Homo sapiens: one gene and its partners. The protein of the gene in region 7 purifies or fractionates together with the protein of the main gene of each other region. This does not show direct contact. Each region holds a gene or a part of one and is shown on either strand. Other genes may lie near its edges.

Region 1 (3,500 bases), on a different chromosome or scaffold from region 7:
CCCCGTCTCTACTAAAAACACAAAAAATTAGCCGGGCGTAGTGGCGGGCGCCTGTAGTCCCAGCTACTTGGGAGGCTGAGGCAGGAGAATGGCGTGAACCCGGGAGGCGGAGCTTGCAGTGAGCCGAGATCCCGCCACTGCACTCCAGCCTGGGCAACAGAGCGAGACTCCGTCTCAAAAAAAAAAAAAAAAGGGAAGAGGAACAAACCTAAGCTAACACGTTAGCATGCGTATCCCTCATGCCATGTGATGCTCTGTGCCACCTCAAGACTCTTCAGAGGAGAGTCCTCAACAGCAAGAAGGCTCTTACCAGATGTGCCCCCTTTGGCCTTGGACTTTCTAGCCTCCGTAACTGTAAGAAATAAATGCTTTCTCTTTATAAATTACCCAGTTTCAGTTGTTCTGTTATAAATACCAGAAAATGGACTAAGACATAATAGCAAAGTGGTTAAGAGTCTGAATTCCTGATTCAGATTGCTAGTGTGACTCTCTGTGTCTGAATTCATCTGTAAATGGGAATACTAGTCCGTACTTTATAGTTTGCAGATGCTCTTAGTACAGGGTTCAAATGTTAACTGTAATTACCTCTCCTATTTTTGTTATTGCTAGAGAGAAACCTGTAATGATAATCACAAAATATTAATAATTGTTGTTTCTGGGTAGTAGGACTTGTGATGATTTCTTCCTTCTAAATCCTTTTTTAACAATGAATAGCATAAAGCTGTCCCTTTAAAAATAAAATTAAAATATAAATTTTAGTTGTCCCGGGAGTTCTTTTGTATCTGAAACCTCAGTTGTCAAGCTTGGAAATCTGTACTTTTAAAATATCCTCAAGCGATTCTGATTACACATCAGGTTTGGAAGCACTTGGCATAAAGAACTTCCCCCACCCAATTCAAAGAAATAGTATTTAAGCCCTCATAATGTGCAGTGTGGTTAAGCTGTGTCTTTTTCCAGTCTAGTCTACCTCAACACTCTTGTGGACATGATTTTTGCCAAAAATCTGAGTGAGCTTTGGGATGCATTCTACCCCCATGAGATGGCTATTTTATCCCAGGAGCAGGAAAAAAAAAAATGGGAGTTTACAGTTATTTAGTCATAAGGCCGGAGTCCTTTAAATTGGAAGGGAATGTGGTAAACACAACACAAGAGGAGCCAACACATTCTGAGTGTGCTGATACTCTGGGGGAGAAGAGTAAGAGAGTATGACAGGCATCAGACAGCATCACAAAACATTTTAAAGTTAAAAACAATTACGTAACACCAAGAAGTCAGTTTTCCTTACATTCACTCCAGGATAGATGCCTTGCTTAAAAAGTGCCTCTTCAGCTAAGAAAAACTGTGTCCATAAGTACTTCAGTAGCTTTCCACAAACAGTAACTGTTTTTGTGTTATAGAAGTAGGCTTGTTCTGAAGCTCAGCATGTCCTTGGAATATGATTGAGTAGCATGTTAGTATTCATAGTTGATGGAGCTGGGTTAGCACTTCTTTAACTTCAGATATCCATATGATGATAGAAATAGGAATTTTCTCTGGTCCTGCAGTCCTTCCTCTTCTCAGTCACAGTGCTTTCTGCCTAAGTGGTACTGAATGGCATTGTGACTACTGCTTTCTTCTCCAGTGCCAGGAGCGGTAGACTCTGCAGCAGTAAAATACTGTCTTTGTTCTTTTCTGAGATGGTGAAGTGGCTGTGTATGGTATTAAGGCAAAATCACAGCTAGGACAAAAAGCAATGGAAAACCAAGATCAGTGTGCTGTAAGGCAAAGTGTTAGTGAGAGAATCAGAGGATGTAGAGAGTGACAACTCAGTATCTGCTAATGCTCCAGGTTCACTGCTTCAATCGTATTCTGCTTGTCTTCCTCCATAAGAAATTAAGAGTTAAAACATCTTTCATTTACTTCTCTTGGCTTCATGTTTTCAATTCATGGTACTTTCATATCACATACCTCTATTGTAGATTGTCTTGATCATGTATACTGCTAAAGGAAGGACTTGTATAATATCGAACAGATACTTGACTAATCAGTTCTCTCTGGCTGTTTGAATGAAATTTCAAACCAAGATTTCTGGTTAGAGCAAGGTCTAATGAACTGGTCCTCAGACAATCGAGATATTTAGAATTTCAGAACAATCACTTAAGACAGGAGGGATATGTTTTATTGTATCTTTTGGATATAAAGATTACACTAACGGCCAACCTGAATGAGGGAAAGGGGGCAGTAGGGAGGCAGAATTTGAGACCCCCTCATCAGAGAAAACAGCAGAAAGACATGGTAAACTTGTTTCTGGTTTTCCTGTGGCAAATTTGATTGGGTGTAGAGAGAAGGATCGTTGAGTGGGGCTATGTACTCATCATCCATGAAGGCCTACCTTTCTGAACTTGAAGGTACAGTCAGGATAGAGCAAAAGGTGTAAACATGTATCTGATAGTTTCAGATGGTTAATTTACATCTCAAGATACTGGGCAGCTTTGCTTATACTGTGCTGTTCCTTCACCTCTCCTCTTCCTCTTAGGGTTTTTCTTCCCAAACTGGAATTACAATTCAGGAGAGAGCCTGAAATATAAGATATATAATGCAGCATAAGCATGGTGTGTTGTCATGGCATGTCAATTTTACTTGTAGATTTTGGGATATTTTTATATCAAATATGAATATATTAAGTATGTACTTAATGGGATAAAGACACATGAATGGGTTTTTGTATACACTTTTTACTGAAATAAATGTTAATACAGAAAAGTATGTAAAATCATAAATGTAGAGCTTAATGAATGTCACAGAGAACAAGCCATGTAACTACTAGTTTTTTTTGTGGTATCAATAAGCTTTCCTTTAATTACTGTTTGTATGGTATATTTTTCTATTATTTTGCTTTCAACTTTATAAATCTATTTAATATGTGTCTCTTGTAAGCTGCATGTAGATGAGTTTATTTTTCTCGAGTCTGGCTGGCAATCTTTATTTTTTAATTGTAGTTTTTAGTCTATTTGCTTTTAATATAATCATTGATATGTTTGGTTCTAAATCAACCACCTTACTATTTATTTTCTATTTGTCTCATCTATTCTATATTCCCTTTTTTTTTTTTTTTTTAACATTGCCTTGATTTGGGGTATTTTCCCATTTCATTTTTTTGTATTTGAATTTAATTATATTGTTTTACTGTTTGTTTGTTTAAAGATTATATTAGACATCCTTGGTCTTTTAAAGGCTATTATTAATCAGTTTTTTTTTTTTAAACAACTCCTGGACAGTGAAATGACTTTAGAGCTCTTAAACTCTATGGATCCTCCTTATACTTTTTGATGCCAGTTTTGTAATTTGTTTTAATGGTAATAATACTAATATCTTGTGAGACTTTCAAAAAATGTTTTATTATAGCCAATATTTATTTGGATTTACTTACATACATACCCTTTTTATGACTCTCCCTTCCTTCCTACATCTCTGAATTTTTATCTGAAATTCTTTTCCTTCTGCCTGAAGAATTAGAAATA
Region 2 (3,500 bases), on a different chromosome or scaffold from region 7:
CAGAACCAAAGGAGTCAGGATGTATTTCACTGGATGGTCATGTTCATCCATCGATCTATTCATTCATTCACTATTCACCACTTTTTAAGGCACTATCATGTAACAGGCACCATACATGGAAATGGGAGTATTGACTACCGAGAATCTTACTGTGAATACAATCTGTATTTCAATTCCTTCCATTTAAGACACAGCACCTCAAATTTGTATTACAAACAAATCATGGGGTTGATGAGATGTGGTTTAGAAATAGGCTGGCGTTTTCTCTGAATATTTTTAATGTTCTATTAGTAGACCTTGGAATCTATCAGTAGAAGGGTGGCTCTCAGCAGGTGGGGGTAAGGAAGGGAGTGAGAGTGGTCTTGTCCCCAAGAGGACATTTGATAATGTTTGATGACATTTTGGTTGTGACTACTCAGAGAAGGATGTGCCACTGGCATCTAAAAGGTAGAGGCCAGGCATACTACTTAATAATTTACAATATACAGCACAGTGCTCCCCAAACCCCTGCCCAAAGAAAGAATTATCCAGCTCAAAATGAGCACAGTGCTGAAGTTGACACCTGAGATAGACTAGGGTCATCTACTGCTCAATAGCACACAAGCTGCAGCTTGCAAAGGACACCGCCTCATGTGGCAAGGACAGACGTCCTGAGCAATGTCCATCTTTACTCTACTTACTTTCAAGGTCCCAGCCTCTGGGAAGTGGGAAGAGATAGGCCATTTGGGACCATGTTTTCCCTCCCTCACAGTCTAATGCAGAAGAGGATAAATGGCACTGTGGGTCTCCCTTCATTAACGCTCCTCATTAACTCAGCATTTTCCTGCAGATTATATCAGGCTGTTACATAAGCAAGATGCCTTTTGAAAGGAGAAATGATCTCAAAGATATATCTGAAAGCTGACACATGTGTGTGGAATGAGAAAGACTACTCCTCATTTCACCTTGAGAAAGGCAGGAGGGAAGACAGGCTGGTAAGTTTATTGAGTGTCTATGGATCATAACCCTTATAGGATGTCAGCTTTCATCTTTTATTTTTTATTTTATTATTTTCTTTTTTTTTTTTTTTTTTTGAGATGGATCTTGCTCTGTCCCCCAGGCTGAAGTGCAGCAGTAGGATCTCAGCTCATTGCAACCTCCGCTTCCTGGGTTCAAGTGATTCTCCTGCCTCAGCCTCCTGAGTAGCTGGGACTACAGGTGCCCACCACCATGCCTGGCTAATTTTGTATTTTTAGTAGAGACGGGGTTTCACCAGTTTGTCCAGGCTGGTCTCGAACTCCTGACCTCAGGTGATCTGCCCACCTCGGCCTCCCAAAGTGCTGAGATTACAGGCATGAGCCACTGCACCCGGCCGGATGTCAGCTTTCAGAACCAGTTTATCCTCCATGTCAGCCCCTCCTATGGAGCATTCCTTACCCACAGCTTGGCTGGGCTGACCAAACTGATTTATCATACTGTTGTTGAGGGAGAGTAGAAACAAAGAGATTAGCAGATAACTACACAAACATACACAATTGCATACACATGTGTGTATTTCTGGGTTTAAGGAAGGAAACAGCATACCTGCTTCCCACAGTAGGACAAGTGCTATAATCTCGACTGACTAATGACCAAAGCTTTTCACTCCTTGGGTTCCGAAAGGATATAGATTCACACCACCATGCTGTAACATTCATTTTAAGCAAGTTTTTAATAGGAAATGTCTCTGAGAGCATGAAAAAAAATAGGAAAAGGATGTTATATAGTACTTAATCCAATCCTGTACCTAATCCAGCACAGAACATGTTTATCTATGTAGTGTTAACAAGACATTTCTGAGTTGAATGGGAAAAGCTTTTGCTGTGTGATGTAGACTGTAGAGAGCCTCTTGTCTGCCTTTTTCCTTTTTCTGTGCTTCCCCTTGTCCCGGTGTGCCATCTTACCTTTCAGTCCACTTATTTGGAGGCTTCATTTGGAGCCTTTCTCAGTTATCCTTAGGGCACCTCTTGGCTCCTTGGGGTTGGTTTCTGCCCCTTAAGAGGTCTCTCCAAGTGATCAGGCCACATCACACAGACCTTCTTTTTGCTTTTGCAACAGTGGTGGTTTTTATCTACAAGACTGTTCTCCCACTTGAGACAATCTGCCCTGAAGCAAACAGATGTTTGCATTGAGATCTCCCCTCTAGATGAATAAAATCTTCCCAGAGGCTAATGCTGGCTAGGAAAGGTTTTTTGTGCACCTATGAAGCGTAACTGAGCCCTGAGCAACCAACTTTGATGTATATTTTGTGATTGAGGAAGAAGAAAAAATCAAATAGCATTTCTTTCTGCCAAACTGTTTTTTGCAGATAAAAATTTTTGTTGACTGAAGACTTTATCCAATGTGTGCTTTGTCCTCTTCCATTAAAAAGAGTTCAGTTGAGATTGCTTTTTCTTATATTGTCCTTGAATTTTGTTCTCTCTGATGTTGCTTGCACATGATACTTCATCAGTAAAATGGATCACATAACTGTCTTCTAAATCTCCATCTTGTTTGGTTTGCTGAGAAACAATTTTCATCCAAGCATAAAGTAATTAGTTCAAAGAGTCAGATTTCAAAAGGTGGATGTCTACAGTCATGGTGAAAATGAAATGAGTACCCTTATTTTGGGAGGACATTAGCTTTGCCTCAGTACCTTGGATCTCCATTATTCATAAGATCTTAGATCAATGTGCCTTGAGGTAGCAACATTTGTCATAATTGGCTGATACATTAGCGTCTTTCAATACCAAATATTAACTTTGACTATGAGATCAGTAAACCATGTAATGATTTTTAACAAGAAATAATAATAACTTGACTTTGAGGATCAGTGAAGTTAATAGAAAACTTTTGAGACAATGGCATACTCTTAGACAACAATGTAAGCTTGGAATCTAAGAAAATGTTATTTGAGCCGTATTTATTGAAATGTGATAACTTGGTTTCTATACTCAATCACAAATACTAATTTAAACTTGGGAAAAACAAACCACAAGACATAGTGAGTGGGCAGTCTTGTTTGAACCATTCACTTTCAAAGTGGGCATAGCTCAATATTCAGAGTCCTCATATCAGCAGAAGAAAAAATAAAAAAAAACTGAAGGAGGTGTTACCCTCAGTAAAAGAGAAAATGATATTTTTATTCCTAAGACAAACATTTATTTCTCAAGACTTTGGAAAGCAATGAGTATCAGAGAATTTTTTTTTTTCTCTTTCTCTTTTTTTTAAAGCTCTTTGCAAATCCAGACCACACTATTGATTACTATTCATTGCTGAAGGCAGTATTCTGTATTCAATAAATTAAGCTTTAATTCCTAAGTCCAACAAAATAATTGACCTCAAAAAGAAGATAAATGAATAGGCTGCAGAGCTCATGATTAGAATCCACTTTCCAGTCTCATTGTATTAGTATTTTTCAATTCAGTGATTTTCCCATTCTTTTTTATCTTCTTTCACAATCTGTTACGCCTTCCACCCTGTTCCTGTATCAGCAAGGCCAA
Region 3 (3,500 bases), 6.1 Mb from region 7:
ACCCAACAGTAGTGAAAGTTCTCCACCATTATGTGGACACTGGGGAAGGCTGTGGTTAAAATGTCTATACCAGTTTCCTTTATGCTTTCTGTGGTTCTGAGAGCATAGGCCCTAAAGTTCTTTGTAGTTTGCTTCATTTGGCCAGAGAAGAGTCCTGTGTAGGTTAAAGGGAAATCTGGTTAAGATGAGTCATGTTGCTCCATTTGAGAAATGGCTTCAGTAGCTTGGCTTTACTGGGTAGTAGTTTCTTATGCTTCATAAAGACCCTGTGTCAGTCATTAATGATTAAATTAAAACTTGTTTTTTAAGTGTTGACTTTAGCCTTTGCCTTTTACGTTTGAAATAGTTTTATAGATAAAGATATGTTTGAGGGTTACTCCGGAACAAAGTATTTCTCCCATAGTGTGTTCTCAGTGCCATATATTACATTTCATTCTTTTTCTCTACACCTGATAATTTGCTTTATTTGATAAGTCTCTCTGCCCACATAGTAATTGACAATAAGCATTGGCACTTCTCTGGTTTTTTGATGATATGACCATTTGGTTGTGAATTTCACTGCTAACAGTTGGTGAAATGGGTCAAGAGACATCTAATTATAAATTTCTCAATGATTTTGGACTGACTTGTGACCTCTGCCTCTGTGCTCCCTGGTTGAGGTTTTAGCAGAAATATTTTTTCTTCAAGAGAAATGTTTTTCACATGATTTTCCTGGCTTGTTTGTTTCAAGTACATTTAGCAATATTATCCCCCTGTGTTTTTCTTATTCTCCTTGTGTTTCTGACAGTTGGCAGCTTCAGTTCATTCCATCAGAGTTCAGAGGTCAGTTACCAAAACCTTTTGCAGAAGGACCTCTGGCCACCCGGATTGTTCCTACTGACATGAATGACCAGAATCTAGAAGAGCCATCCAGATATGTAAGGGCTACATTCTCTTCTTGCTTCTCTGAAAAGAATTCTATGCCTAAAAGTCTGTTGGTGTGTATATTAGAGCATTGATAAAATGAGAATTTCTTAGAAAGCAATTTTTTTAAGGCCGGGTGCTGTGGCTCACACCTGTAATCCCAGCACTTTGGGAGACGGGCGGGATAATTGCTTGAATTCAGAAGTTCGAGACCAGCCTGGGCAACATAGCAAGATCACATTTCTACAAAAAATTAAAAAATAAGCCAGGTGTGGTGGCTTATGCCTGTAATCCCAGCCTTTCAGAAGGCTGAGGCAGGAGGATCACTTGAGCCTCGGAGTTCAAGGCTGCAGTAGGCCATGATTCCGCTACTGCACTCCAGCCTGGGCAACAGAGTGAGACCCTGTCTCAGAAAAAAACCGGATATTTTTTAGGATGAGGGGTATAACAGCTTTTGTTGAAAAACAGTAAACAGTATCACTTTTATTTTCAAATTAACCTCTTTATTTTCTATGTAAAATGTATAATTTAATTTTGAAGGTTTTGGGTAGGCTGAAAGTTTTCTTACGGTAGAAGTTTGAACCATTATTCTGAAACTCATATCATTCCTTGGCCTATTAAAATCCTTAATGAGGAACTTTCAAGTTATCAGGTGGACCTTTGACCTAGCTATTAGTATATTCCGGTTTTAACAAATGAACAGTAAAGACTGTTTCCATACTGAATGCCAGGGAGCAGCCTCTGTCAGGGCCATGATCTTCTCCCTACTTGTCTTTACACATTCTGAGATCCCATGCGAATTTTACTTCAGTTCCTTTGAAAGATGACACTTTTGACATTTGATACCTGTGAAATCTTTGATAATGAAAAAGGTAAGAAGTAATAAAGATAATGCTCCTTTTGGGTCACAAAGACAGTGTAAGATCGTTGTCTAGAATTATTAGAAAGCACATTTTTTGATAACCTGATAACCTGTCCGTTAAAGAAATATGTAACAGTTTAAATGTCAGCTATATTTAATTTACATTTTCTTATGTCATATGCTTAAAATGTAAAATAGCAAGACTTCCAATTCTCTTCTGAAGCAAACCTGCAGCCACATCTGGTCTTTTGTCTCCCAGATTGGGGCTGGTTAGAGTTCCATGGAGACCCTCAGGGTTTATGAGTGAGATTCTTATTGTATGAGCTGTAACTATAAGCTATGAAAATGGACACTTAAAGACACAGCCTTGAGCTGTTCCCTTGTAAGACAGGCGTTTCTGCCACATGGATTGTATTAGAGCTTTATTCTTTTAATTTAAGGCTCTGATTCCTGTTACAATGGAAATACCCTTGGGCAGGGTAGACTGTTACAGGTCATTTTAATTTTATCTGCAGATATGAGTCTCCTGAGTGCAGGGCATCATTCTAGAGAAGCTGGACAGTCAAAGGGTGGGAAAATACACTGTCATAGGGGGACAGTATGAATTCAGAGTGATGTTATCGGAGCTTTGCTTTAGGAAGAGGTAGTAAAAATGGAGTAGTAAAAAAAAGAGCGTGGACTTTGGAGTTGAGTAGGCCTGCATTCAAACCTCAGCTCTGTTGCTAAACTTGATAACCTTGGGCAAATTAGTTAGCTTCTCTGTTTAATTTCAGTTTCTGTCTGTAAAATGGCACCTACTTTGGAATTATGATATTTGATATTATATCTCTCTGTAGCAAAAATGCAATGTTCTTATGCTTGCACAAGTGTTCTTAATCTGATAATGGTATATTAGACAGATTCCAGGTAAAGAAACCCAATCTCTCCCCTTCCTTCTTTTTATTGTTTCCCATCCTTGTAATTTTATTCCAGTGTCTCCAGACTCATCATTGCGTTTTCCACCCCAGTGACTTCGCTTATATTGGTGACTATGCCTGAACTACCCTTGTGTCTCTTCTCACACTATCAAAATTATCTTCCTCTTTGAAGTGAACTATTTAAGTCCATATTGAGCAGACCTTCCTTTAAGTGTCTTCAGTATTTATCTGTGCAGTTCATTTAGCCATTTAATTTTCTTGGTCTTAGTTAAATATTTCTGATATCATATCTTTCCACATCAAATATGTGAATGCCATGAAGAGAATGACTGCACTTTGTTTCTTTTGTGTTCACCATAGTGTCTAGGACGGTGTCATGTACCCAGTAGTTCACTTTTACATGCTTTCTCAGTGGATAATGAATATTCATCGTCATTGTGGTAATGATGTTGAGAGAAAGCTGGCTAGAAAATCTACAGTGGCCTTTTGCACATTTCTTAGGCTTTTATCACTGGTTGTCTTAGTTAGATCATATTTCCATATTCTCTGCTGTCAGACAGTGTTAAATTTGATTAAATGACTCTATATGAGCTTTACCCGAAAGGTGATGATTTTTCAGGATGCCAGTAGGAGTCACCAAAATGCTGGCTGATAAAAGCAGGGAAAAACAAGTGATTTATGTCTGCTGGGTAGCAGCTGTGTCCAGCCCTTTGAATGCGAGGATTTTTTTGCTTATCTGTGGTGGCAGAATCATGAAAATTAGGCATGGACCTTTAGCTCTGGGTGGCAGGTTTTAGCCAGCCTTTGGCTTCAATGCT
Region 4 (3,500 bases), on a different chromosome or scaffold from region 7:
GTTTTTGAAACAACATTGATATAAATTCTGCATGAGGCTACTGTCATTTGGAACTTATTCTTCATTTTTTATTCTTCAGTTTTTCAGGCCAAAGATGAAGACTTAATAGGCTGACAACTGCTTATGAGGGATAGAGACCATATTTAAAATGGAAGGTCTAGAACAAGAGCCCCAGAACCATGCCTTCAGGCCATCCTAATGTGCCCTGCTGAAGATAATTTTTTGGTGTCGGGGGGCAGGGCAGGGAGCCTAATGTCTGGTTTTTGTGGTGGTGGTTCTTTTATGTTGAAATCTTCTTCCATCCTGGGAAGAGGATTCAGTTATATGTAGAGCCTAGCAAAGTTGATTTTTAGAATTAGATTTTAATGGTTATTTTTTTTTTTGAGACAGAGTCTTGCTCTGTTGCTTAGGCTGGAGTGCAGTGGTGTGATCTTGGCTCACTGCAACCTCTGCCTCCTGGGTTCAAGCGATTATTGTGCCTCAGCCTCCCAAGTAACTGGGATTACAGGCGGGGGCCACCACATCTGGCTAATTTTTGTATTTTTAGTAGAGACAGGGTTTTGCCATGTTGTCCAGGCTGGTCTCGAACTTCTGGCCTCAAGTGATCTTTCCCCCTCAGCCTCCCAAAGTGCAGGGATTACAGGCGTGAGCCACCATGCCCGCAAGCCCACTTTAATGTTAAACTGTTGCCAAGATAATTTAGAATTAAGTCTGAAATGTTAGCTCTATCTTTACTTAAAAAATGGTTATAAAGAAGCGTATACTTTCTGGACATTGGACTCCTAGTGAAGGGGGCCTTTGGAGTTGGGTGTTGTTTGCAGGAGGACGAAACACCTGCTTTTCTGTCCTTCCAGGCACATAATTCATTTCTCTGGTATATGCCGAAGGTCAGGTTTTTTGTGTAAAATTGCTGATGGATCATTTGTAAAAACACATTTAAGTTGATTAGTCCTTGAAAAATGATCTTTAGAAAATGATCTTTACAGATACTAGTCCTTGAGCTTTCCTGTGGATCAGATTGCCTTGGGCGAAGGTCTGCAGTTTCACAAGCATGACTCACTACCTTTTATAGGTGAGAACATCAAATGGGCCAGGTGGAGGGTCTAGTAGAACTCTGGATTTCTTTTTAAATTTGTATCATACTATTTTGCTAATGGAAACTTGATGAATACTTAATTCCATCTGGCAAGTGAAAAGGGTCCCTTTTGGGAGTATTCGTTTTGTTAGCATTTTTAGTGATTTATTGTTTTGACAGTGTGATATTGGTCCTTGGATGCAAAAATACTCTGGAGACTATTTGGAAATTTCATTTTATAATTAACTAACTGTGTGATAATTGCTGGAGCAGAATGTGTGTTTTTTTTTTTTTTCTTTTCATTCTGGAAGGTTATTTGAGGTGAAAAACTTAGATTCTAATCACAAAGGCTTGTGTTCATGTGGTACCCTGAGTACTTTTGTAAGATACTCACTGTGTTGCTGTGAGTTATCTCTTTTATGGTTTTTTCTTTAAAACAAAACTCTTCTGAGTCTCCATAAAGAATAAGTATCTCATTTTGTTATATTAGATTTTGTGCAGTTGGCTGGCAAATTAAATTTAACTTTGAGGGAAAGCACCATTGACTCATTACATACATTTTGCATCATTGCAGCGTAAGGTCTTCCCTATGTGTGTGGGAGAAGTTTCTGATCTAAATGGGCATGTTTCCTATTGCTGGTCTATCTTTTAGCCAAAGCATTTCTGAATAGACATTCCTATTCATTTTCTTATTTTCGAGACTTTAGAGAGATTGCTACTTGTTATGTATTCGTGATAAATCATCTGAATCCTGAAAAAAATACTTATGCCAACAGCCCATTTTGTAAAGACACTTGTCTTTGAGCTTTTAAGCTGTCATACTCATTATTCGTTACAATAGCTGTACAGCCATTGGATGTATCATGTTTTTGACACAGGAGCTAGGGGAAGGATGACCTACTTGTTGCATTTCACATTTTTCCATATTTATATCTTTTTTCAATTTGTGGCATCTTTATTTCATTGTTAGAGTGGTTGTTCTCTAAGACGTTCCAGGTTTTAATTTCATTCACTGTGTGGGCTAAATAAGGAGCTTTCCTGTAGAACCAATTCTACTAAATTCCTGAAAATGTCAGTTAAAAATTAGCCAGGCATGGTGGTGTGTGCCTGTAGTCCCAGCTTCTCAGGAGGCTGAGGCAGGAGGATGGCTTGAGCCAGGAGGTCGAGGCTGCAGTGAGTCATGATCATACCACTGCACTCCAGCCTGGGTGACAGAGTGAGACCTTGTCCCTACCCCCACCACACACACAAAAAAAGAAAATATGAAGAAAAAAGAAAATGCTTCCAAAAAGTATCCCATCTAGATACCATGCTGGTTAGGGCTTTTGGTCATGTTTGAATGGGACATAGCTGAACACAGAGCAGGATTTCAATGGGTAGGCTAGGAAAAGGAGAGGAGTGTCTAATTTGTTGGGAGAAAATCCACTTTTGCATAATAATAGGGGATTTACGTGTTTTCTTTGGAGTTAATATGTATTTCAAGTAGGTAGATAGGTAAGAGGTTTGCAAAAAAATTTTGCTAAGGTTGAGGTTCTGTAGTTGGCAACTCTTATAACCCTGAAGATCCTGTTCTCTAAAGCCAGGAAAAAGCAGTCTGTTTCCAATTATGTATCACAAAAAATAGTGAAATTAAGCCAAGAAAAATGATCATTTGGGAGTTGGGTTGCTTTTTTTTTTGCAGAGGGTAAAGGAGAAAGGACTGTAGACACACATTTTAAAGAATCTGCTAGTTTTTCTGTTGGCTTTCAGATTTTTCTCAAATGCTCTGTATTGGAAATTAAGAATAATTTTAGGATTAAAGGCCTTTTCCTCCTTCGGCTTCTTTTTGTTTCTCAGAGAGCAAATAGAAGAGCATTTAGGCAGTTTTTGCTGACATGAAAGGGTTTGGGTCCAGTGTTCCGGGACCCAGCTTGTGTTTTTGGTAAAGCCTTTTCCTGCCTGAATGGTCCCAGGTTATGGGCTCACAGCATCATACCTGGTAGTGGTGCTATGGTTTTTGTTATATGAATTTTTTTACCATGCTTTGAACTGAAATGTAGTCCCTGCTGCCTAGCATTATTCTGCTGGAGGAGAAAACTAGGGATGTTAGTGTGGGAAAGGTATGGAGGTGCGAAGCCTAGCATTTGGATGATGTGTGGGTGAATATATTGTCCTCAGCACTTGTCAGAAGCAACTAGCCTTTCGGGATGCCTACTGCTAGTTTCAGGATTAGTGGTCCTGTGAGACCTAGGTGTTAACTAAGAAATCTCCTTTCCACTGCCAGAAGATCAGCCCCGGCAGGTCTTAGTTCCTGTTTCTCACACCTTACACCTCCACAGAGTGTTGAATAAGACTTTCCTGATGCTGCATAATCTTTGATAACTCTTAGTCTTGTCACTGAGGCTAATGTGTTTTAGCTCTTGGTGCTTTTCTTCTCACCTCCCAT
Region 5 (3,500 bases), on a different chromosome or scaffold from region 7:
CCTTTTAGACATCTGGAGAACAATATCCCCAGGTCACTTAACCCTTATCTCCTGCAGTATAATGCAGTGCGTCCAGCTGATCTACCAAATTGAATGTGTGCCTTTGAATACGAAGCAGTTGTTTTGTGGCCTGTGGCATTTCATTTAGGTTTCTAAGCTGTAATAAATTAGTATGTTAATTTACTTCTTTCCATTCACATATTCTTTAAATCCAAGCCTAGAAACTGATAGTTATATGTATATTAAAATCATTGGAATATTGGTTTTTTTGCAGATAGTGTTTGGGCTGTTTATTATCCATAGCTCTTCATTATGTAAATAGAATCTCAATGCTGATAAAGTAAATAGATTCTTCCATTTCATTAATGGTTATTTTTGATTTATGATAAACTGCATTTAATAAATCTCTTGATTTAGTTAAATGGTGGATACATCATTTCATATTATAGCAAATTGATAAATATAAAAGAAAGTTTTACAATCATAAGAGTAAATATTTAAAAAAACTTGAATAAGTTACTTTACTAAACATAAAATTAAGATTTTTAAACAACTCTGAAACTAAAAGTATTACTATTATGGTACCTTTTTTTTTTTTTCCCCCAAAGAGATGTGATCTTGCTGTTTTGTCCAGGTTGGCCTTGAACTCCTGGGCTCAAGCAATCCTCCTACCTCAGTCTCTTGAGTAGCTGGGACTATAGGCATGTGCTACCACAGCCAGCTTTATTATAGTACTTTTGTACCCTGCATCAATGCTGCTTCTGTTGATACTTTTCAAAGGAGATATCAACTTCTGGTCTTCAACAGTAGTGTAGCATCCTCTTATTGATTCTCTGGCTCATATTTCACTACCGTATAGTATGGAGTTTCTTTCTTGGAGTTTGAATTGTTTTTACATTGCAGCTTGTTATAGTGAAACAATTAAACATATTTAAAAGTAAAAGATATTTACGACTGATTTTTAAAGAACCTGTAAAAAAATCTCCAACAGAAGAATATTATATGGGGATGTGTAGATTTAACATTTTATTTTCTTTAATTTTTTTTTTTTTTTTTTTGAGATTGGGGTTGGGGGTTGTCTCTCTATGTTGCCCAGGTTGGAGTGCAGTAGTGGCGTGATCACGGCTCACTGCAGCCTTGAACTCCCTGGTTCAAGCCATTCTCCCGCCTTAGCCTCTGGAGTATCTGGGATTATGGGTGCATGCCACCATGCGTGGCTAATTATTTTTTAATATTTGTAGAGATGAGACCTTGGTATGTTGCCCAGGTTTGTCTTGAACTCCTGGGGTCAAGTGGTCCTCACACCTTGGCCTCCTAAAATGCTGGGATTACAGGCGTGAGTCACTGTACCCGGCTCCTTTATTTTATTAAAAAGATTTTTGTTTGTTTGTTTGTTTCTAAGTTTAAAAGAGACAGGGTCTTGCCATGTTGCCCAGGCTGGTCTTGAACTCCTGACCTCAAGTGATCATCCCACCTTGGCCTCCCACAGGCGTGAGCTACCATGCTTGGTTGTAAGATTTTTAAAAAATGGATTAGTTTCAAATCTCAACTTCTCTTTCTTTCAACATTCTAATCTCCTGGCATTTTTTTCCTTTCCCCAGCTACCCCCCATCATCCAACAGTCTTCCATTTGGAATAATGGGAAATCAAACCAATAAAGTTAATCTTACCTCCCACCAGGCAAAGGTTTTTCTTAATCTCTACAATATTCTGAACATAAAACCCATATAAACTTTATATGATACTACACATTTTCCTTTTAACGGAGGAAGAGCAAATGGGACCTATGGAATTATGCCGTATTTGTCAATATAAGGGTTACTTTTGTACTCTTACTGAAAGCAGAGTTATAGGGCTAATTTCATTTAAATTTTCTTACCCATCTACTTTAAAAAAATACCTCTTTGTGGTAGTCTTTTTTTTGGTCAGAAAATGACAATGTGAAGGAGAAATACGTTTTGAATTTATAAATCTTCTTTTAATTAACAAATTATACCAATATAAGGGTAGTGTTAATGTGGTTCAAATTTGCCTTTGCTATTCTGCCTTTTCTTCTATAGTGATTGTATAGTTATACTATAACTTCTTCCTCGAAGCACTGGAATAAAAGAAAAACTTTTAAAGATCACTACGAAATGCTCACTGTATTTGTTGTATTTTATAACTTGGGTTTTTAAAATTTATTTTTCCATAAACTGAATAAATATGAAAACGAACTTGAAAGATCTTGTCACAGCCTTGATGACTGGTCAGTATAAAGTTCACATTATAAAATAATAAAACATTGATAATAATCTTAGATGAAAATGGAAAATTAAGCTAATGTTTATTTTAGAACCTGAGTAATGAGTTTATATCATGTAGCAATGAGGCACATGAAGACGGTTAGAATTAGTTTTTCTAATGAATAAACTTCATGATATAAACTTGAAAGTGCATAAATGCTATAACTTTCTGATTGTAAACTTGAACAAAAGTAAAATGAAAATGGGAGAGTCCTCTTAATTACCTTTAACGTATAACTAAAATGAACCTGTGTATCTGTCTAAGTCTTATTTGATCAAGACTTTCAATGGACAATGAATGAGTTTTAAGTTTTTATCAATGTTGTGACTGATTTTTCTATAATATCCCTTAAATGAGATATCAAATTCTAATAATATCTAGAACCAGATTAAATTTGGTTAGAGTATAAACAATATTTACAAACCATCAAAACTATAATAAAAGCATTGTAATGTTATTTAATGACTTAAGCCAACATTCCATAAGCTAATCTAAGCATTTTTACAATTAATACAATTGATAGTAATATCTTAATTAGTGGTAAAGTGGACAGATATAATTTATAGATTCTGTATTGTCTGGGACCTTGGGGCAGTCAGTGAAGAGAGGGAGATAGAGAGAGGAGCATACTGGTTGATGAGCTTGCCTTATTTGGAGATGAAGGAGATTTATTCAGTTTTTCTCTTTCCCTCTACTTACTTCTCCTTGTTTGTCATCCTCTTCTAGCAATGGTAAGAAATGCGGGAATTGACCATCTTTACAGTATACTTTTTTCCTTAGAGTTCATAGAACATTTCCAGGTAAAACATTAGCTTTTATGTTATAATAGGTTTATTATAATGATATCATTTCCTTTTGAGGTGGTAGGCAAGAGACTAGAAGAACTTCATTTGTATAGCATTTAATATTATTTATTAAAAATGATTTTATAGGCCGGGCGCGGTGGCTCATGCCTGTAATCCCAGCACTTTGGGAGGCCGAGGCAGGTGGATCACCTGAGGTCAGGAGTTGGAGACCAGCCTGACCAACATGGAGAAACCTCATCTTTACTAAAAATACAAAATTAGTCGGGCATGGTGGCACATGCCTGTAATCGTAGCTACTTGGGAGGCTGAGGCAGGAGAATCACTTGAACCCGGGAGGCTGAGGCAGGAGAATCACTTGAACCCAGGAGGCGGAGGTTGCAGTGAGCCGAGATCTTGCCATTGCACTCC
Region 6 (3,500 bases), on a different chromosome or scaffold from region 7:
TAAAATTTCAGTACCACTCAGTGATTGATTTATTTGGTACCTCTGTTACCAAGCACTTACTATGTGCCAGGAACTCTAGGCTGAAAGATATAGCAGTACCTACCCCCATGTTGCTAATAGCCTAGTTGGGGAAGATGACAAAGAATAAATTCTAAGTCTAGTATGTGTTTTAAAGAAGTCTGGGTGCCATGGGAGTATATACAAAAAATTGCCATTAAAACCAGATCCTGAGCTGGGCAGAGTGGCTCACACCTATAATCCCAGCACTTTGGAAGGCTGAGGCCAGTGGATCACTTGAGGTCAGGAGTTCGAGACCAGCCTGGCCAACGTGATGAAACCCTCATCTCTACTAAAAATAGAAAAATTAGCTGGGCATTATGGCTCACGCCTGTAGTCCCAGCTACTCGGGAGGCTGAGGCAGGAGAATCGCTGAAACCCAGGAGGTAGAGGTTGCAGTGAGCCAAGATCGCACCACTGCATTCCAGCCTGGATGACAGAGCAAGACTCCTTTTCAAAAAAGAAAAAAACAGATCCTGAGAATAAAGATAAGCACATTTATAGTTTGGTTAACTATAAAATGGAGTAAAATGTTAATTGACATGGTACCTCATAATTTCCTGGTGTTATGAAACTATCTTTCAGATCTTTGGGGTTCGTTATGGAATTTGCATAATTGGCAGTGAAATTTTTCTTACTTGCAGATTTATAAAATGAAGCATTTGGAAAATTCACAGTGTAACTTTTTTTGTTTTTTGAGACAGAATCTCACTCTGTTGCCCAGGCTGAAGTTCATGGCGCGATCTCGGCTCGCTGCAACCTCCACCTCCCGGGTTCAAGCAATTCTCCTGCCTCAGCCTCCTGTGTAGCTGGGATTATAGGCACGCTCCACCGCGCCTGGCTAATTTTTGTATTTTTTTAGTAGAGGTGGGATTTCACCATGTTAGCCAGGGTGGTCTCACACCCTTGACCTCAAGTTGTCTGCCCGCCTCAGTCTCCCAAAGTGCTGGGGTTACAAGCATGAGCCACCATGCCCAGCCACAGTGTAAATTTTATTTGTAATTATTGGATTTCTGGTTCAAGTTGATGTTTGAAAAATAAAAAAAGAAAAATATTTTAAAAATATAATTATTGGGAATTTTGTATCAAATGATTTTCTGGTTGGTTTTACCTGTTAGTGCTTCCTTCATTGCCCCCCACCCCGCCTCCCAAATAGAGGTTGGAATCATTATCCCTCATCTGAAATACTCTAAAATCTGAAGCTTTTTGAGCACTGACATTCCTTCCTTTGCCTGTGTCATAGAAGGAAAAAATTAAGCCAATGAGAGATTGCTAGAGGTAGCAGTGAGAAGCCTCTACTGTCTTGGGGGTGGGATAGGGTGGGGCATGGTGGTATACTGTGAAGGATCTGAGCTCTCTATTCACTGACTGGAGCTGTTGCATTGACATTAGATCCATCCAGTTAGTAGGATGACTGGAGATCTAACTTAGCTCATCTGTCTTTCCTTTGCATAGGAAATTAAGGGATCCAAAAAGCTGAGTCATGGTCCAAAAGGAAACGTTGATGTCAGGACAGCCATAGCCAAATTTTATCTCAAGGGTAAACATGAGACTGGGTAGGGATGGCTGTCAGTGCCTGGGGATTGGTGGGGCTTGGGGGTAGGTAGAAGAAAAGTGTCCTGGGTTAACTACTTGTTTATTTTTTTCATGGACACAATAAATGACCTGATCTTTCCTTGTTAAGGGCTGGGATTTATTTGAACCCTCAGGACAGGCTAGAAAGAATTGTGACTTTTTTTCATGTTAATACATAGGTAGCCTATGTTACCAAATTTTATTTTTTAAGATAGTTTATTATTTTTATTTTTTGAGATGGAGTCTCGCTGTGTGACCCAGACTGGAGTGCAGTGGCACGATCTCAGCTCACTGCAACCGCCACCTCCCGGGTTTAAGTGATTCTCATTCCTCAGCTTCCCGAGTAGCTGGGACTACAGGTGCGTGCCACCACGCCCAGCTAATTTTTGTTTTTTTAGTGGAGACAGGGTTTCACCATGTTGGCCGGGCTGGTCTCCAACTCCTGACATCAGGTTATCTTGCCTTGGCCCCCCAAATTGCTGCCATTATAGGCCTGAGCCACAGCACCCAGCCTTATTTTTATTTTTTTGAGACAGTCTGGCTCTGTTGCCCAGGCTTGAGTGCAGTGGTGCGATCTCGGCTCACTGCAACATCCACCTCCTGGGTTCAAGTGATTCTCATGCCTCAGCCTCCCAAGTAGCTGAAATTACATACGTGTACCACCATGCCTAGCTGATTTTTGTATTTTTAGTAAAGTTGGGGTTTTGCCATGTTGGCCAGCCTGGTCTCGAACTCCTCACCTCATGTGATCCTCCTGCCTCAGCCTCCCAAAGTGCTAGGATTACAGGTATGAGCCACCACGGCTGGCCTGTTACCAAATTTTCATGATCTGCAGTTCAAATCCTGGCTAATGACTAAACTTACCTTTGGGAGGTAAAAGGCAGAGAAGAATCATATCTGTTTTCTAAGAAGGACCTTAGAAGATTAAGATGAAACAATGTATAAAAACAAAGTAGCTTATACTTGCATAACTGGGCAGTTCACTGTTTTTATCAGTATAATCCTTTTTTTGCAATAGCAATTCAAAGAGCTTTTCCAGTGGTTGAACAGCAGTCATGGGTTTAAATTATGTTTGCTTATAACCACAAGAATCTTTATAGAGAACAAAATGTTTGTACTCTGGACTATCCTAGAGAATTCTACGAACATAGACTGTAATCATGACATTACTGTAGTCCTGTATATGCAAAAAGAATAAAAGCCCTCCTTTGACTACTCCCTTGCCTTCTGCTTCTCCCCCATCTTAGTTTCTACCCATGGGGTAACCACTGTTGCCAGATTTTTCTTCACAATTGTATGTACTGTACCTTTTTGAAATCTGGAAGTTTAAACTTCAGGCAGTTTTCTTTTTTTTTTTCCGAGATGGAGTCTTGCTCTGTTGCCCAGACTGGAGTGCAGTGGCGCGCCTTCCAGGTTCATGCCATTCTTCTGCCTCAGCCTCCCGAGTAGTTGGGACTACAGGCACCCGCTGCTGCGCCCAGCTAATTTTTTATATTTTTAGTAGAGACAGGGTTTCACCGTGGTCTCGATCTCCTGACCTTGTGATCCGCCTGCCTCGGCCTCCCAAAATGCTGGGATTACAGGTATGAGCCCGCGCCTGGCCCAACTTCAGGCAGTTTTATTAGGAGTTTAAACTTGAGGCAAGAGGACAATGAAAAGAAGCTCTTCACCATCTCCCACTATATATATAGATATATATAGTGTAAATATATAGGAGTAAAATTTGTATTAGAATTCCAGCTCAGGCACAGTGACGTATGCCTGTAATCCTAAAACTTTGGGAGGCTGAAGTGGGAGGATTGCTTAAGGCCAGTAGTTGGAGACCAACCTGGGCAACATAGCCAGACACTGTCCCTATAGAAAAAAAA
Region 7 (2,631 bases):
TCATCCTTAATTTATAACAATAAATAGTAAATACCGAGGATATTCCAGGCATTGTAAATGGCTGATTTTGATAGATTAGTCAGAGTTCTTCAGTAAGAAAAATGGAAGATGAGAGGGTGGAAGTGGGAGAGGGGACTCTCTAGGGTGGATCAAGTATTCCAAAGGCCAAGGGCAAGGTAAGGCACACACTGAAGGGTCTGTGGTTCAGTTTGACCTGAGCAATGACTTCTGAGGTTGGATATAGGTTAAAGCAAGTCAAAAAACATAAAATAACTTTTTATTATTTTATTACTTTATACTCTTTTATGATAGTAGTGAGGTTCTGATGAAATATTTTAAGTGGGAAAGGGAAAGAATGGTAGTTCTCAGGGAGCATTCTGGTGACAGCTGTGAAAGTTGTCAGAGTTAAAATGGAGTCACTTGTGTTTTTAAAAAAAGACAACAACAACAACAAAAAGAAAATCAAAAAGACTAAAACAAACAGAGCTGGGAAAGGCCATGAAGAGCGGATTCCCATGCATAAATGCTTGATAACAAAAACTATCACAAAATCCTCTGCAGAAACTGAAACGTTTTCAAAGTCCATTGCAACCTTACACAAAAAAATACTTCTGGGAGAACATCTGCCCAGCAACTGCCTGCCTGGCCTGTAGGTCCACCCTTTTTCAACCCGCTGAGCTCTGTTCTGAGGGAAGAAAAGCAGGGAAAGAAACACAGACAGCTGGGATTGACCCCAGGCATCACATTTGACCCTGTCCAGAACACCCCCCGAATATGGGGACGCTGAGGGGACCTCTGCCTACAACCTGGGTGCTCCTCCAGGGTCCCCACCTGAGGAAGTTCCCAGCCTGCTGGGTGCAGTGTCCTGCTGCAGGGATCTTACCTCCATCTTGCTGTAAATCCAGGGAAGAACTTCTGTCACTTTGGTGTACACACCAGGTTTGTTTCTCTGGCCACAGCCTGTGCCCCAGCTGGTGACACCTGCCAGGTACCAGCGGTTGTTCTGCTCACAGACAAGAGGCCCCCCGCTGTCTCCCTGCAGGGGAGAGGGGGCACATTCGCAGGATGGGACAGGTGGTCCATGAGCGGGAAAGGGTGGGGTCCCAATTCCCACATCAGCCCCAACACCCCTGCCTCCCCCATCCCCAGGGTGCTGGGACCTGAGCCCCACCCACAGGTACCCTCACCTGGCAGGAGTCTCTGCCCCCACGAAGGTCCCCAGCACACATCATCCTTGGGGTAAGGTAACTGTCATAGACCAAGTAGTCATTGCATTTCTTGAAGTCGATGAGATTGACCTGCACCTCCCGGAGGAAGGGGGATGTCTTGTCTTCAGTGAAGTGGGGTGGAGGAGACAGAGGATGGGAAGCCAGTGAGATTCTAGATAGCTTCCTGGCCGTCCAGCTGCCACCCCAAGACCCAGAATCACAGCCTCCTGGGAATGGAGGGTGCCATGCCCGTGCCTGGCTCCCACCCAAGGGAGGCCCTCTGTGGTTGGACACCCAGGACATATGGGCACACACGCCCTCACACAAGACACAGCTCACTGCACGTGAGACAGAGACATCCATGCACACAGACACACTCACAAGCCTATCAGGCTACCCGACATGTTGCACAGCACTTGCCTACGTTCAAAGCACCCTCAGATACATGGCTTTGTTTGTTTTTGGAAGCTATGTGCCCTAAAGAGAGCAGGTGGCATTAATCCATTTACCGGTGGGGAGGCCTGGTGCTGGAGAAGTGACCTGCCCACAGTCACACAGCTAGTCAGGTATGGAGACAAGAGGAGAAGTAGGCTGCACCCACATCAGTCATTGCTCTGCCTCACGGAGGGAGGGAAAAGCGGTCCTGATGCATGGAAGTGGCCTGAGTCTAACCATGGGGTCATCCTGCTCAAAGTAAGCAATCTCACAGGACAAGGCACTCTGTGATTGGGATGACATGAAAACAAGACCACTTCATCATCTTGTTTAAGGCCAGACAAAAACAAGGTCACTGTGCAAACCACAACAGTACCAGACATCCCCCTCTCCTGGCCAATATGAGTGACTGCTGCTTCCTTACCACTTAGAGCTCCTAGATAAGATTATATATATATATATATATATATATATATATATATATATATATTCTTAATTGAGACGGGTTTCACTCTGTCACCCAGGCTAGAGTGCAGTGGCATGATCATGGCTCACTGTAGCCTCAACCTCCCTGGGATCAAGTGATCCTCCTGCCTCAGCCCCTCTCATAGCTGGGACTACAGGCACACATCACCATGCCCAGCTAATTTTTCTATTTTTTGTAGAGATGGGGTTTTGCCATGATGCCCAGGCTGGTCTTGAACTCCTGGGCTCAAGAGATTCTCCCACCTTGGCCTCCCAAAGTGCTGGGACTACAGGTGTAAGCTACGGTGCCCGGCCTCTAGATAAGATTATTAAGGTTCCCAATCATAACCCCTGCTTCCTGACACCACAATTTAGAGAAAAGTCCTGCGTCTTTGAACCCTCCCCAAGCCACCTAAATCCTACGAGCATTCCCTCTCTGACACCCTCTTGCTGAGATGCTCCATGGTTCTTCATGGTGTGTTCTCTCTCTCATTGCAATGAGCAATGAACTCAACTAGTTCAA

Evidence for each region.
Region 1: the proteins of TMPRSS13 (region 7) and C1GALT1 purify together in Homo sapiens (affinity purification with mass spectrometry; one large-scale study listed by BioGRID and IntAct). This does not show direct contact.
Region 2: the proteins of TMPRSS13 (region 7) and GPC6 purify together in Homo sapiens (affinity purification with mass spectrometry; one large-scale study listed by BioGRID and IntAct). This does not show direct contact.
Region 3: the proteins of TMPRSS13 (region 7) and ALG9 purify together in Homo sapiens (affinity purification with mass spectrometry; one large-scale study listed by BioGRID and IntAct). This does not show direct contact.
Region 4: the proteins of TMPRSS13 (region 7) and TGFBR3 purify together in Homo sapiens (affinity purification with mass spectrometry; one large-scale study listed by BioGRID and IntAct). This does not show direct contact.
Region 5: the proteins of TMPRSS13 (region 7) and FUT8 purify together in Homo sapiens (affinity purification with mass spectrometry; one large-scale study listed by BioGRID and IntAct). This does not show direct contact.
Region 6: the proteins of TMPRSS13 (region 7) and FAM177A1 purify together in Homo sapiens (affinity purification with mass spectrometry; one large-scale study listed by BioGRID and IntAct). This does not show direct contact.

What each region holds. Positions count from the first base shown.
Region 1 is NC_000007.14:7,227,544-7,231,043, forward strand, and holds part of C1GALT1 (glycoprotein-N-acetylgalactosamine 3-beta-galactosyltransferase 1), read left to right. Parts: intron 1-3,500. UniProt on the Homo sapiens protein: Glycosyltransferase that generates the core 1 O-glycan Gal-beta1-3GalNAc-alpha1-Ser/Thr (T antigen), which is a precursor for many extended O-glycans in glycoproteins.
Region 2 is NC_000013.11:93,824,807-93,828,306, forward strand, and holds part of GPC6 (glypican-6 precursor), read left to right. Parts: intron 1-3,500. UniProt on the Homo sapiens protein: Cell surface proteoglycan that bears heparan sulfate. Putative cell surface coreceptor for growth factors, extracellular matrix proteins, proteases and anti-proteases. Enhances migration and invasion of cancer cells through WNT5A signaling.
Region 3 is NC_000011.10:111,833,582-111,837,081, reverse strand, and holds part of ALG9 (alpha-1,2-mannosyltransferase ALG9), read left to right. Parts: intron 1-787; coding exon 788-917; intron 918-3,500. UniProt on the Homo sapiens protein: Mannosyltransferase that operates in the biosynthetic pathway of dolichol-linked oligosaccharides, the glycan precursors employed in protein asparagine (N)-glycosylation.
Region 4 is NC_000001.11:91,876,152-91,879,651, reverse strand, and holds part of TGFBR3 (transforming growth factor beta receptor type 3 isoform a precursor), read left to right. Parts: intron 1-3,500. UniProt on the Homo sapiens protein: Cell surface receptor that regulates diverse cellular processes including cell proliferation, differentiation, migration, and apoptosis.
Region 5 is NC_000014.9:65,415,730-65,419,229, forward strand, and holds part of FUT8 (alpha-(1,6)-fucosyltransferase), read left to right. Parts: intron 1-3,500. UniProt on the Homo sapiens protein: Catalyzes the addition of fucose in alpha 1-6 linkage to the first GlcNAc residue, next to the peptide chains in N-glycans.
Region 6 is NC_000014.9:35,049,272-35,052,771, forward strand, and holds part of FAM177A1 (protein FAM177A1 isoform 1 precursor), read left to right. Parts: intron 1-3,500.
Region 7 is NC_000011.10:117,902,772-117,905,402, forward strand, and holds part of TMPRSS13 (transmembrane protease serine 13), read right to left. Parts: intron 1,331-2,631; coding exon 1,188-1,330; intron 1,037-1,187; coding exon 884-1,036; intron 681-883; coding exon of another isoform or gene 666-680; exon of another isoform or gene 271-665; intron 1-270. UniProt on the Homo sapiens protein: Serine protease. Cleaves the proform of PRSS8/prostasin to form the active protein. Cleaves the proform of HGF to form the active protein which promotes MAPK signaling.